Linked DNA regions of Homo sapiens. The protein of the gene in region 2 interacts with the protein of the main gene of each other region in a pairwise test. Each region holds a gene or a part of one and is shown on either strand. Other genes may lie near its edges.

Evidence for each region. Proteins that work in one complex are often made in the same cells at the same time.
Region 1: the proteins of EEF1G (region 2) and PLGRKT interact in binary tests that used the Homo sapiens proteins (3 or more experiments, as listed by UniProt).

What each region holds. Positions count from the first base shown.
Region 1 is NC_000009.12:5,434,921-5,442,074, forward strand, and holds the start of PLGRKT (plasminogen receptor (KT)), read right to left. Parts: upstream 3,006-7,154; 5' UTR 2,869-3,005; exon of another isoform or gene 2,712-2,868; intron 1,775-2,711; 5' UTR 1,649-1,774; intron 1-1,648. UniProt on the Homo sapiens protein: Receptor for plasminogen. Regulates urokinase plasminogen activator-dependent and stimulates tissue-type plasminogen activator-dependent cell surface plasminogen activation.
Region 2 is NC_000011.10:62,563,875-62,570,894, reverse strand, and holds part of EEF1G (elongation factor 1-gamma), read left to right. Parts: intron 1-3,366; coding exon 3,367-3,496; intron 3,497-3,823; exon of another isoform or gene 3,824-3,884; coding exon 3,885-4,089; intron 4,090-7,020. UniProt on the Homo sapiens protein: Probably plays a role in anchoring the complex to other cellular components.

The DNA.
Region 1 (7,154 bases), on a different chromosome or scaffold from region 2:
GTGTCTGTGTAGAAAGAAGTAGACATAGGAGACTCCATTTTGTTCTGTACTAAGAAAAATTCTTCTGCCTTGGGATGCTGTTAATCTATAACCTTACCCCCAACCCCCTGCTCTCTGAAACATGTGCTGTGTCAACTCAGGGTTAAATGGATTAAGGGTGGTGCAAGATGTGCTTTGTTAAACAGATGCTTGAAGACAGCATGCTCGTTAAGAGTCACCACCACTCCCTAATCTCAAGTACCCAGGGACACAAACAGGGCCAAAGGCCGCAGGGACCTCTGCCTAGGAAAACCAGAGACCTTTGTTCTTGTGTTTATCTGCTGACCTTCTCTCCACTATTATCCTATGACCCTGCCACATCCCCCTCTCTAAGAAACACCCAAGAATGATCAATAAATACTAAAAAAAAAAAAAAAAAGAAGAAGATTGAGCTGTCTCAAGGTCAGTAGACCAGTTATTCTTCCTGTCATCCCACCACAATCCCTGTCCCTCTCCTACATGCCCCTTATTTCCATCCACCCACTGCTAACTGCCTTAGCCATCCTCCTCCAGCTTCACTCTCATTCTCTCCAAGATAGCATGTACTAAAGTTCTCAAAAATGGAAAAACATACAGATACTTGAATGTCCTGGAAAATGTACTTTTTAGATGAATGCACAGTAGTGTCTATCTTATGTAAGTTTTTAAGTGGGCTGTCAACTCTACAAGGGACAGAACTCCAATTTTTATTCTTAATCCAACTGGGTGGGTACAGAAGACCTTGAGTTAGTTGGTTGCATTTCAGAATACTGCAAAACTCAGGGGAAAGTTACAACTGCTCTACCCTTCTCAACAATGTTGCTGATACCTTTTCTCTTTAATAGGCTGTTGAGTAGGGTTGTGAACCTCAGGTAAGAATGGCCAGTCTTAATTCATTACAGCCAGGATTCCCAAGTATTCTGTGGGAAGCCCAGCTAATGGGGTTCCAGGTGAGTGGGAGCTGCAAGCAAGACTTCAGTGACTTCCTTGTATTCTGATCAAGGATACACCTGGAGTTTCAGGGCTCTGTGCCAGAGTCAGCTTCAAAGCTGAGCACAGGATACCAAACCACTTACCAGGATGAAGAGGCACAATGCTGAAAAGGCCTGAGGTGGTGAGATTTCCCTCCCCTTCTGCCACTGTGCCACTCGAGCACCCTGTGACCAGAGTTAGAGGCCACTCACTGACAGCAGGGTGATTTGGCAGTTCTTTCCTTTCTCCAAACCCTAACAGTCCCATGCGACTCATCTCTAACAGCAGACCAGAACCTGCCTGAGGTTAGGAGCGAGATATTATCCATCTTGATAGTCTCCATGGTGTCTACTTCCCCTAAATATTTGCACAAAGCATGAGAGATACAAGAAAAACTGTGGCTCAGGCCACTTGCCATTACTTATTTTTCTTCTGAACATAGGAGTGGATGACTAAATTTTTACACCTGCTGCAAACATTTATAAAGAAAACAACTGTACTCTAGTACTATTCCTCCACATACCCTGTATATCACAGAGCTGTGTGCTTTCAAGTGCTCCTGTTTGTAAGGGGTTAGGATCTCCCCTGAAAAGAGAGAGTCCTCATGTCAATCATCTGGGAAAGAAACACTGTCTGGGAAGTTAGTATTTAGATTTACCTCTTTCTGGGCCTTGCTCTCCTGGGTCTGGACTTGTAGTCTGAATGTGTTAGAGGACGCTCCCAGGTGGAAGGGTTAAAGGTGGAAGCCAAGCAGGAAGAAGAGCTTCCTTATGGGAAACCACACCTGAGAATAAATAAATGCATCACACCTTGTAAATTTCACCCTGGAGTTCAGTATTTTCAACATTCTTTCCTTTCCCAACTTCCCCATTCCTGGCAAAGTCATTTCCCAAAGTCTGGGAATATTCCGTAGGGTGTCCAGAACACTTTCAGCTATCTCCTCTTGCTCACAAAATATGTATCAGAAAATAAGCAAAATTGACCTTGCAATAGGGATAACTTTGATTTCACTCACTTGTATAAGTTAAGTCTTTTAAAAATTCTAACACTTTTCACCAGGGGTAAAAAAAAATGTCTTGCTACTTATACAATTTTAAACATCACTGTGTCTCAGAGTGATGTTTTGCAGAGAATGCTGATTTCAATCCCTCTGTCTTCATTTTCCCTTTGATTCCTTCTGAGATCTTGGAAGGGGTCTTTAATGCTTCAGCCCTGCCTCAGGTGAGCTATAGATTACTATGGGAAGGTGTATTTCTGGGGAGGAGAAGTGGTGCCTGCAAGTTCCAGACAACCTTTCTTCCGGTCACCCGTGAGTACCTAGATTTGATTTTACTTGGGGGGACATAAAAAATTAATTGCATGAATTCTGTCATCGGGATTACCACGCTGACTTATTTCCCGATCAGATGACACATTGCCTGAATGTATGACTGATCGTCTCACCACAGTCATTTTCAATATTTGCATCCCATTGAAATTAAGCCACATCCCCTTGCAAATTCCAGCCCAGAGCCCACAGCTTCCGGAGGTTTTCTGTAATTAACACCGCCCTTGCTCCCTGAGGCCAGTTACTGTAATTTAGGTATTCCCCGCAATAGTGTGCTGATTTCTGTTGAGAGCACTGTGCCTGTTTTTCTCAACTCTATTTTAAAGCTACGGAGAGATCCGGAGTCCACGCCAGGCGACAAGAACGCGCTCTAATGGAACGAAGTTGGCAATACCTATCAGCACCAGGGGCAGTGCGAGAGCCAAGAGCCGGCGCTCACGAGGAGCGGGCGCCCAGCGCTGCCTGGCAAGCCCGGAGCCCAGGAGATCGCGCTGACTGACATGGCCGGGCTGACCCTTCTCCCCACCCGCCTGCGGCCGGTGTTCACTCACTGGGCGGCGCTGGTGCCGGGACCAGGCGACCGGTACGCAAACCTCCAGGCCCGGGCTCCTTTCGCCCGCTGCAGGGACCGGGCCTCGCTCCGCCCAGCGTCGGGATTGGCGCCCAGACACAGTAGATGACGCACCTCAGCCAATTCGCGCAGCCCTCAGCTTCTTTAAAGAGCCGGCACTTCCGCCAGAAGCCGGGTGTGTCCTTCCGGGCCAGGCTCAGTGTTACCAGAGGTGGGAGGGGAAGGTCAAAAGAGGCAAATTCAAAGCCGCGGCGACTCAGCTGCCAGATTTTTGAGATGAGGCAGAGGAAGCGGAGTGGAATTCTCAATTAAAGGCCTCTGTCCCCTCATCTGTTAAATTGGCACTATTAAAAAGTCATAAAGATAAGACAGAAACGAGAAAGAAGAGAATTGACTGAAATTACCCATTCTTTTTTGAACAGAGCCGTCTTTCTCCCCTGCTGCTCAGAGAGATGTCGGTCTCGCCTCAACCTCACCAGCAATTTCTATCTTGAATAAGCCACGTCTCTCTCCCAGCCTGAGAGAATGCTTGAATTGTTGGCACTCTGTTCTTTGCTACCAAATGGCTTGGAAAAATAGCATGAACGTCACCAGTCTCTGGCCTTCAGGAAAGTCCCTGCTAACCACCACAGCGGTGGAGAAGGCGTCTAACTTTCTCCAGGCTCAGCGTGTGAGTGCACACCGCCCTGACCTCCTGGGCGCGTCTTGATGCTCTCAACAGCAGCCCTCAGGATTCTGGACTGTGGGTCCCACATTCCAGATACCATTTGTGGAATGGCTGGATGAGAAAATTGCAACAGCACCCTCATTTCCAGTTAAGGGAATGGGCGGGTTACCAGGAGGTTTGACACTCTTGAAGGGAGGTTAACAACTGATGCAAGAAGTAAGGAATCGTGTTTGAGTGCACAGACTCTAGCATAAACACACCTACCTTCAATTTCTAGCTCTGTCACTGTCACTCTGAATTTATCACCTCTGCAACAGGACTAAAGCCATCTAATTTATTGGATTGTGAGGACTAAAAGATAATATATGTGGGCATTTAGCACAGTGTCGGGCACATAGTTCGCCTTCCGTAACCAGTAGTAACCAGTAACAGCGGGGAGCTGTTAGTAACTATAGGGCTGAGGGGTGGGGGAAGGAAGCAGTTACTAAAACCAGGCGAGAGCGAGAGCGGTAGCTGTGGCTGTACGAGAGAGTAACCAACTGGAACCGTGTCGTTCAGTAGAGGAAAGCAAGCAATGCCAACTTTTCACCAAGTAAGGTGAGATTCTATAGTTGTAGCCAGTGCTGAGACGTCAGCCCAAAGCAGGGACAGAGTGGAGAAGACCCACCTCTCTGTTCTCCCAGCTCTGATATCCAGCTGGGGTCTTCCGCTGGCTGGATCCACCAGGAAGCCAGAAGACAGTGGAGCTAGGTCTGTGTAGTCTGTAGAGGTCAGCCTACTAGGCACAATGCCTGGAGGGAGAAATAGAAAATATCCAGCACACCATTTCTTTTTTTTGTTTGTTTTTACACTTTAAGCTCTAGGGTACATGTGCACAACGTGCAGGTTTGTTACCTATGTATACATGTGCCGTGTTGGTGTGTTGCACCCATTAAGTTGTCATTTACATTAGGTGTATCTCCTAATGCTATCCCTCCCCCCTCCCCCCACCCCACAACAGGCCCCGGTGTGTGATGTCCCCCTTCCTGTGTCCAAGTGTTCTCATTGTTCAATTCCCACCTATGAGTGAGAACATGCGGTGTTTGGTTTTTTGTCCTTGCGATAGTTTGCTGAGAATGATGGTTTCCAGCTTCATCCACGTCCCTACAAAGGACATGAACTCATCATTTTTTATGGCTGCATAGTATTCCAGCACACCATTTCTACAACCTTGGGTTTATTGTGTTTGGAAGCCTAGATCCAAAGGAAGGAATGCTGCCACTAGAAGACCCCGTCACTGAATTGAATTGAATTTCAATTCATTGATTCGAAAGCTGAAACTGCCCTCTGGTCACTTTGATTCCTCACAGTGACAGAATGGTATGATTCATCCCAAATACCAAAAGGAAATTGGGTTACATCTATATATTGAGGGCAAGAAGAACTATGCATGACACCTGGAGATTCACTGGGCACTTCTTAATACTGCCGTGTGCCATAATAATGATTATCAGATAACTGAAGTAATGCAGAAATTTCAGATCATGAAGAAATTAAAGTGTTGAAGCATACCAGATAAAAAAATCCTGATCTACCTAGGTGTTGGCATAGGGCAGGGGAAACATACATAAGTAAATGAGTAGGAAGCTATGATTATTAATTTTAGCCTTGCAACAAGCTCTAGAGGCAGGAATTATAGTAGCTCTCCATTTAAAATGTTAATTACTTCTTCCCTGACTCTCTTTTCCTATTACCCTGCATAAAGAGTAGTGGTGGAGATAAATATTACAATTTAGTTTCTGGGTGAGAATGTGCCTGAACTGACATCCCCTCAAGGCAATATGGCAGCTGATGAGGCTTGTTAAGGAAAATCAAAGCTGGACAATAGCTGTAGCAGTAAAAATAGATTTTTATTCAGCAACTTTTGAAATAGGGGGAAAGAGACCTTGGTAAAGAACTGGGCTCAATTCTGAATACAGTAAGGATAAGTGGGGATTTATAGCCGAGGAGCAGGTTGTGTGGATGGGGGTGGGGTCCGTGGATGGAAAATTACTAAGAAGAGACAGCAAGGGTAGGGGAAATCCTTGCTAAACTGACCTAACAGGATTCTTGCTAAAGGTAGGCCAGGGTAAGCAGACATCACCTGGGGGCTGGTGGGGGTAAGGAATTTGATCAGATATTGAGAGTGGTCAAACATTCAGGGTGGGAAGATCCTCTCTAAACTGACTTAGCAGGATTCTTGCCAACACTGATTCTGCAAGGATGAACACTGCAGCCCAAGGTCAATATCTAATCAAGGAGATGGCTTAGAGGAGCCTGACTAAAGTTTGGTCGAGGAGAAATCTTGTCAGACTCTGTCATTCTCATATGTAAGGGATGAGCTGCTCTTCATCTGAGCAAAGGAAAAGAATAAATTCTGGGTGACAAAACAATTAGACTGTCTAGGTTTTCTGTTTGCCTTCCATCATATTCATTCTCCTCACTTCCCTGCCCTGTTCTATACCCCAAAGCTGACCTCTTTGGACGGCACCACCTGGGCTCTCCTCAGCTGGTTTCCATTTGAGTTTGGACAGCGGGAGGCATTCAGGGAGATGGGAGGCAGGAGGAAAAAGACATCAGGGTATATTTTCTCTGTTCTTTCTCTGTTTGGGGCTGAGTATCTGGTGGTGGTTGTGTTTCTCCACAATTGCAGCTCTTGGCAAGCAGTCCCTTCTCCATGGCTCCAGCTCCATGGGCTCTGGAAACACTTTTCTCCTTTGCTATGTAGCCTAGAGAGAGCGCAGTCTTCCTGCTGTTGCTAGACTCTGGATGACTCAACTGGATGGTTCTCTTAGTCATACTCCTTTAAGTAGTGTCTTCACTAATATCTCTTTAATCAAACCAACTGAGTAAAATTCTGATTCCTGATGGATACATGTTAAACCGAAAACACACATTATAAATTTTCTTGTATGTATGATGTTTTTCATAATTTTAAAACATAAGTGAAAAAAGTGACCATAGAAAAATATGCCCAGGAAATTGAAAAAAAAAGTCTTGGTATAGATATTGGACACATTTTATAAAATGTGGAGTAAGAGGGTTAAAGGAAATTTATTTCAGAATCAAATGGCATATAACTTTAACTGGTATGTGAATTATTTTCAGTTGTATGAATTTGTGAATATATATGTGTACATTTTTATGCATATATATAAATATGTGTTTTATATCATCTTGCATTATAACATAAGGATTTTTATGTTGCTACATTGCATTTATATTTACCATTTTTAACAGCTAAAGGATTTTCAATAAGTGTGTATGTAACAACTTCCATTGCTGGATATTTCTCAGTATATATATGTATATATACATATGTGTGTATACATATATATATACATATGTGTATATATACATATGTATGTATATGTATATGTACGTATGTATGTGTATATATACATACATGTGTGTATACGCATATATACATATGTGTATATATACACGTATATACATGTGTGTATATATACACGTATATACGTGTGTATATACACACGTATATACATGTGTGTATATACATGTGTGTATATACACACGTATATACGTGTGTATATACACACGTATATACATGTGTGTATATA
Region 2 (7,020 bases):
GTTACCCTGTATTCTGCTGAGGACTTGGAAAACAGCTAGAGGTGGGTGCAGTGGCTCATGCCTGTAATCCGAGCACACTGGGGGGCCGAGGTAGGCAGATCACCTGAGGTCAGGAGTTTGAGACCAGCCTGGCCAACATGGTAAAACCCTGTCTCTACTAAAAATACAAAAAATTAGCCAGGTGTGGTGGCGCACACCTATAGCCCCAGCTACTTGGGAGGCTGAGGCACAAGAATCACTTGAATCTGGGAGGTGGAGGTTGCAGTGAGCAGCGATCGCCCCACTGCACTCCAGCCTGGGTGAGAGTGAGACTTCGTGTCAAAACAAACAAAAAACAGCCAGGAATCCCAGGACTGAGTACCATCACTTGCTTTCCATTCTCTTAAGAAGCTGGGTAATGTCTTGCCTTTAGTTTCTGTTTGGCAGCTAAGATGTTTAGTTTGTTGCCATATTTCCTGGGAAGATTGGTTATTCTTAGTTGTGAAGACAGAGGTGATGATGGTAGCTTCAGCATTAAGATCTTTTTGGAGGCAGGCCAGGCACTGTGTCTAACACCTATAATCCCAGCACTTTGGGAGGCCTAGGCGGGTGGATCACTTGAGGTCAGGAGTTCGAGACCATCCTGGCCAGCATGGCGAAACCCTGTCTCTATTAAAAATACGAAAATTAGCCGGGCGTGGTGGTAGGAGCCTGTAATCCCAGCTACTTGGGAGGCTGAGGCAGGAGAATGGCTTGAACCCAGGAGGTGGAGGTAGCAGTGAGCCAAGATCCAGCTACTGTGCTCCAGCCTGGGGGACAAGAGCGAGACTCCATCTCAAAAAAAAAAAAAAAGCTCTTTAAGCTCTTTTGGAGACAGATACAGGTTCAAGCCTTGGCTTCATTGTTTACCAATGTAGGTAAGGGGTTATATGCGGGTGAATTCCTTTAGTCCTGTTTTTTACTCTTTGCAATCTATAAAATCAGGGTAGTAATAATCACTGTCAAGGTTATTGGGTCAAAAAAGAATGACAAGTCACTGGTTTCCAAATAAAAGCTCTTGGACTGATGCTGGTCCAGAATAGTAATGTGATCATAGCAAAAGAAAAAACACTTACTGCATGCCAGACCCTGTGCCAGGGGCCTCATGGGGATCATCTTAGTGAGTGAATCTACTAAGTGGTAGAGTAGAATTTGAACCCAAGTACTGTGGAACCAGCACTCTGACTGCTGTGTTCTGTTTCCATGACAAGATTTTTTTTCCTCTTCTGGTCTTTGCAAACTAAAAAATGACAACAGTTCTACCTGAAGCTTTGCAAACTGAAAACTGACAACAGTTCTACCTGAAGCTGTTTATTCTTATTTTTCTTTGACCATGCTTAATACACCAGACACTAAGTTTAATTTGAAGGACTGTCCATTATTTATTTATTTATGTATTTATTTTGACAGAGTCTTGCTCTGTCACCCAGGCTGGAGTGCAGTGGCACGATCTTGGCTCATTGCAACCTCCACCTCCCAGGTTCAAGCGATTCTCCTGCCTCAGCCTCCCAAGTAGCTGGGATTACAGGCATGCGCCACCAAACCCGTCTAATTTTGTATTTTTAGCAGAGATGGGGTTTTGCCATGTTGGTCAGACTGGTCTTGATCTCCTGAGGACCTCAGGTGATCCACCCGCCTCGGCCTCCCAAGTGCTGGGATTGCGGGGGTGAGCCACCACACCCAGCCAGGACTGTCCATTATTCTAAATGCGTTTGAATATTTTCTTTGAATGTTCTTTACTTTCTGAAGTTTGATGGATGGGTGGGTGTGGGGGGTGTGTGTGTGTGTGTGCGTGTGTGTATAGTATGGCCAATATAGATAGTAAATACCTATAGTGTTTAGATTTTATTTGGCAAAAAAGTCCTCGATAGCCCTCTGTGGGTCTCAATCTTTTTTTTTTTTTGAGACGAAGTCTCGCTCTTGTCCCCCAGGCTGGAGTGCGATGGCGCGATCTCGGCTCACTGCAACTTCTGCCTCCCGGGTTCAAGTGATTCTCTTGCCTCAGCCTCCTGAGTAGCTGGGATTACGGGCATGTGCAACCATGCCTGGCTGATTTTTGTATTTTTAGGAGAGGCGGGGTTTCACCATGTTTGCCAGGCTGGTCTCGAACTCCTGACCTCAGGTTATCTGCCCGCCTCGGCCTCCCAAAGTGCTGGGATTATAGGCGTGAGCCACCGCTCCTGGCCGACGTTTGAAATTTAAAAGATTGGAAACAGTAGATCTGAAATAGTTTTGTAAAGGAGCAAGACAATTATTACTCCTACTCCTAAATGGAGGATGGACCCAAGCATCCATCCATTAAACTGGACTACACTGAAAAAAAAGATTAGAAAAAGAAATGGAGGCCAGGTGTGGTGGCTCACGGGTAATCCCAGCACTTTAGGAGGCCAGGGCAGGAGGATTGCTTGAGCATGCGAGTTCAAGATAAGCCTGGGCAACATAGTGAGACCCCATCTCTATTAAAATTTTTTTTTTTTTTTTTTTTTTTTGAGACAGAGTCTCACTCTGTCACCCAAGCTGGAGTGCAGTGGCGTGATCTCGGTTCACTGCAACCTCCACCTCCTGGGTTTAAGTGAGTCTCCTGCCTCAGCCTCTGGAGTAGCTGGGACTACAGGCACGTGCCACCACGCCCAGCTAATTTTTTTTTTTTTGAGACAGAGTCACTCTGTCACCCAGGCTGGAATGCAGTGCCGCGATCTCCGCTCACTGCAAGCTCCGCCTCCCGGGTTCACGCCATTCTCCTGCCTTAGCGTCCCGAGTAGCTGGGACTACAGCTGCCCGCCATCACGCCCAGCTAATTTTTTTATTTTTAGGAGAGATGGGGGTTCACCGTGTTAGCCAGGATGGTCTCGATCTCCTGACCTCGTGATCCGCCCGCCTCGGAGATCCCAGCAGTTTGGGAGGCCGAGGTGGGCGGATCACTTGAGGTCAGAGTTCGAGAACAGCCTGGCCAACAGGGCGAAACCCCATCTCTACTAAAAGTACAAAAATTAGCTGGGTGTGGTGGCAGGCACCTGTAGTCCCAGCTACTCAGAAGGCTAAGGCATGGGAGGCTGAGGCACGAGAATCACTTGAACCCAGGAGATGGAGGCTGCAGTGAGCTGAGATCACGCCATTGCACCCCAGCCTGAGCGATAGAGTGAGACTCTGTCTCAAAAAAAAAAAAAATTGAAAAAAATGAAGAAATGGGAAGTAATCCAGGGAAGGATGATGTTGTATGAAGCTATTGTCTATAGGGTTTGAAAAGAAGGTGAGCACTGGGACTTAGGTAGAGCAAGGACTCTTGCTGTGAACAGAACTCTTCAGGGCCTTTCCACTGACTTTGTTTACACCCTTATGTCCTGGCAGGTTCTAGAGCCTTCTTTCCGCCAGGCCTTTCCCAATACCAACCGCTGGTTCCTCACCTGCATTAACCAGCCCCAGTTCCGGGCTGTCTTGGGCGAAGTGAAACTGTGTGAGAAGATGGCCCAGTTTGATGGTGAGTCTGAGGAGACTGGGAGGCATATGGCCAGGATCAGGGTCTGGTTTGCTCTGCATCAACCCCTTGATTTCCTGTCTTGCTTTTGGGTTATGGGGACCTGCAGAATGTAGGGTGTCAATGTGGTAGCTAATATTATGTGCAGTTTCGTGTACACTCATACCCTGACTAATTTGTATTACTATATAGATTTGCGATATAAAGTATTTGTTGCTGAGTGTGTTGTTGCTGGAGGACACACAGTGAACTGATGAGCAGTCTGGGGCCTAAGTTCCTTACTTGTCCCATTCGTCAGTTTCCTCTGTTACCTTGCTTGCTCTGTGTGGTTTTGGAGGGGTGTGGAAAGAGGCAGAACATTCGTTCACTTTCCTGCCTTCCTCTGCACCAGCTAAAAAGTTTGCAGAGACCCAACCTAAAAAGGACACACCACGGAAAGAGAAGGGTTCACGGGAAGAGAAGCAGAAGCCCCAGGCTGAGCGGAAGGAGGAGAAAAAGGCGGCTGCCCCTGCTCCTGAGGAGGAGATGGATGAATGTGAGCAGGCGCTGGCTGCTGAGCCCAAGGCCAAGGACCCCTTCGCTCACCTGCCCAAGAGGTAAGGATATTGGAGGGTGGAGGGTGTGGGACCAAAGAAGGCCTGTTCTCACCTCTGTATGTCCCCCCTCACACACAGCTAGAGCCAGAATTTTAGGTTGTCCATATAAAGTTAAAGGTATATTTTAGTTGCAAATAAAGCAGCTTTCTGGCTGATAATCAGGAATTGGGCAAATTTTGATTGTGGAGAGCAAGTTTCAAGTACAGCCAGTACTGGGGAAGATTGAACTCCTATTCCAACAAAGACAGGAACAGATTTTGATATAGTGGTAAGTTGGTTTTGAGCAAGCTCATTTGACCATTTGAGAGCTCTGAGAACAAATACAGGGAGAGGCGTGGGGAGGAAGAAAGTGCAGAGAGCCTTGCGGTGCGCCACGCGCCCGGCTGTGCGGAGATAGTGGATGCCAGAGCAGGGTCCTTTGAATTGTTTTGTTTTCTGTTTTGCTGAATCAGACTGTACAAAAATTGCTCACTAAGAAAAAGGATGAAGATCATAGCTAAGTAGTGTCTGTCTAGTTCATTGTTCCACAACCGAGTAAAGTCCCCAAGTAGAAGAAAGTAGGTGTCCTCTGTATCCCTTTTTCAGTTAAAGGTAGGGCTTCTTGGAAGAAATAATATAGTAAAAACGAGATTTTTGGCATGAAAAATGTAGGACGCTGAGTGCTTGCCCAGTTCTCTGGGATGGAGTCTTTCTTCCATCACTGCTCCAAGTCATTTTATTGGGAGTTCAAGCAGTTTGAGAAATATATATTCTGTGGTCACTTTGCTTTGGAACTCCTCTTTCTCTGTACTTTTTCCTCCCACTCACCCTGTCATTTCCAAAGCCGTTCATCTTTTTACTGCTTGGTCTGCTAGGGTTTACATTTCACCCTCTCCCATCTTGTAATGGCTTGGATACCGGGTGAACCAGCCTAAAGGAGCACCCACTGGTAGGGACACAGTAGCTGTGCATAGAATTGTGAATTACAAGCATTGCACTAATAGATGGGAGCAACTTGGGGTATAGCTGAAAGTTCTTACTCCCGGGTATTTTGTACAAGACCAGGAAGGCTCCATCCAGACACAGGCACTCTTTAAAGATGTATTTTTTGAACTAGTGATTTGCCTTGAATTTAGCACAGGTGCAGGTCAAGAGTGAGCAGGATTTTTGGTGTGTGTAAATAGGTCATGATAATTAACCCAAATTACATATTGTGTTGTAACTCAGACGTTGTTAATTATTAGCTAGAGATTTTCACATATAGTAGGTCAGTACTCTGGGCAGGAAATAAATGAGGCAGTAGTAAACTTAAAATCTTTATTTAATAAACTTTACATTTTCTTAACATGGTTTTGGGAATGTTTATTAATGTCTATTTATTGGGTTACCATGATGCCCTACAGGGCTGCCAGAAATGCTTTCCCCAAGGTTTTTTTTTTTGGAAACAGGGTTTTACTTTGTTGTCCAATCTGGAGTGCAGTAGCGTGATCACGGCTCACTGCAGTCTTGACCTCCTGTACTCAAGCGATCCTCCCACCTCAGCCTCTGGAGTAGCTGGGACAAAGGCACACACCACCACACCCAGCTAATTTTTTATTATTTGTAGAGACTAGGTCTCACTATGTTGCCCAGGCTGGTCACAAACTCCTGGGCTCAAGTGATCCTTGGCCTCTCAAAGTGCTGGAATTACAGGTGTGAGCCACTGTACCTGGCTCCTTTTTGTGTTTTTTGTTTTTTTTTGGTTTGTTTGTTTGGAGACAGAGTCTCACTCTGTCACCCAGGCTGGAGTGCAGTGGTGTGATCTCAGCTCACTGCAACCTCCGCCTCCCCAGTTCAAGCGATTCTCCTGCCTCAGCCTCCCGAGTAGCTGGGACTACAATGACAGGCGCGTGACACCACGGCTGGCAAATTTTTTGTATTTTTAGTAGAGACGGAGTTTCACCGTGTTAGCTAGGATGGTCTCAATCTCTTGACCTCGTGATCCGCCCACCTTGGCCTCTCAAAGTGGTGGGATTACAGGTGTGAGCTACCGTGCCTGGCCCCCTTTTTTTTTTTTTTTTTTTTTTTTGAGATGGAGTCTGGCTCTGTCGCCCAGGCTGGGATGTAGTGGTGCAATCTTGGCTCACTGCAACCTCCACCTGCCGGGTTCAAGCAGTTCTGCTTCAGCCTCTTGAGTAGCTGGGACTACAGGCACGCACCACCATGCCCAGCTAATTTTTTGTATTTTTAGCAGAGACAGGGTTTCACCATGCTGGGCAGGCTGGTCTCGAACTCCTGACCTCGTGATCCGCCCGTCTCCGCCTCCCAAAGTGCTGGGATTACAGATATGAGCCACTGCTCCCGGCCTTTTTTTTTTTTTTTGTGAGACAGAGTCTCACTCTGTTGCCCAGGTTGAAGTGCAGTGGTGTGATCTCGGCTTACTGCAGTCTCCGCCTCCTGGGTTGAAGCAATTCTCCTGCCTCAGCCTCCCGAGTAGCTGGGGATTGCAGGTGCGTGCCACCATGCCTGGCTAATTTTTGTATTTTTAGTAGAGATGGGGTTTCACCATGTTGGTCAGGCTGGTCTCAAACTCCTGACCTCAGGCAATCCGCCTGCCTTGGCCTCCCAAAATGCTGGGATTACAGGCGTGAGCCACCGCCCCTGGCTCCCCCAACATTTTTAATGTCATAAAAGTGATATCCTAAAAGACCAAGACTATTAATGTCCAGATTTTAATTCTAGTTCTTTTAAGACCCAGCTAGGTCAACTGCAGTGGCTCATACTACTTGGCAGGCTGAGGTGAGAGGGTCACTTGAGTCCAGCAGGTTGAGGCTGCAGTGAGCCATGATCGTGCCCCTGCACTTGGGTGACTGAGCAAGACCCTGTCTCAAAACAAATAGCTTGAACAGTTCAGGAGGGTGTGAAAAAATTCCCAGCCCCAGTTTTGGTGTGGTTGAGGTTTTAAGGCTCCTC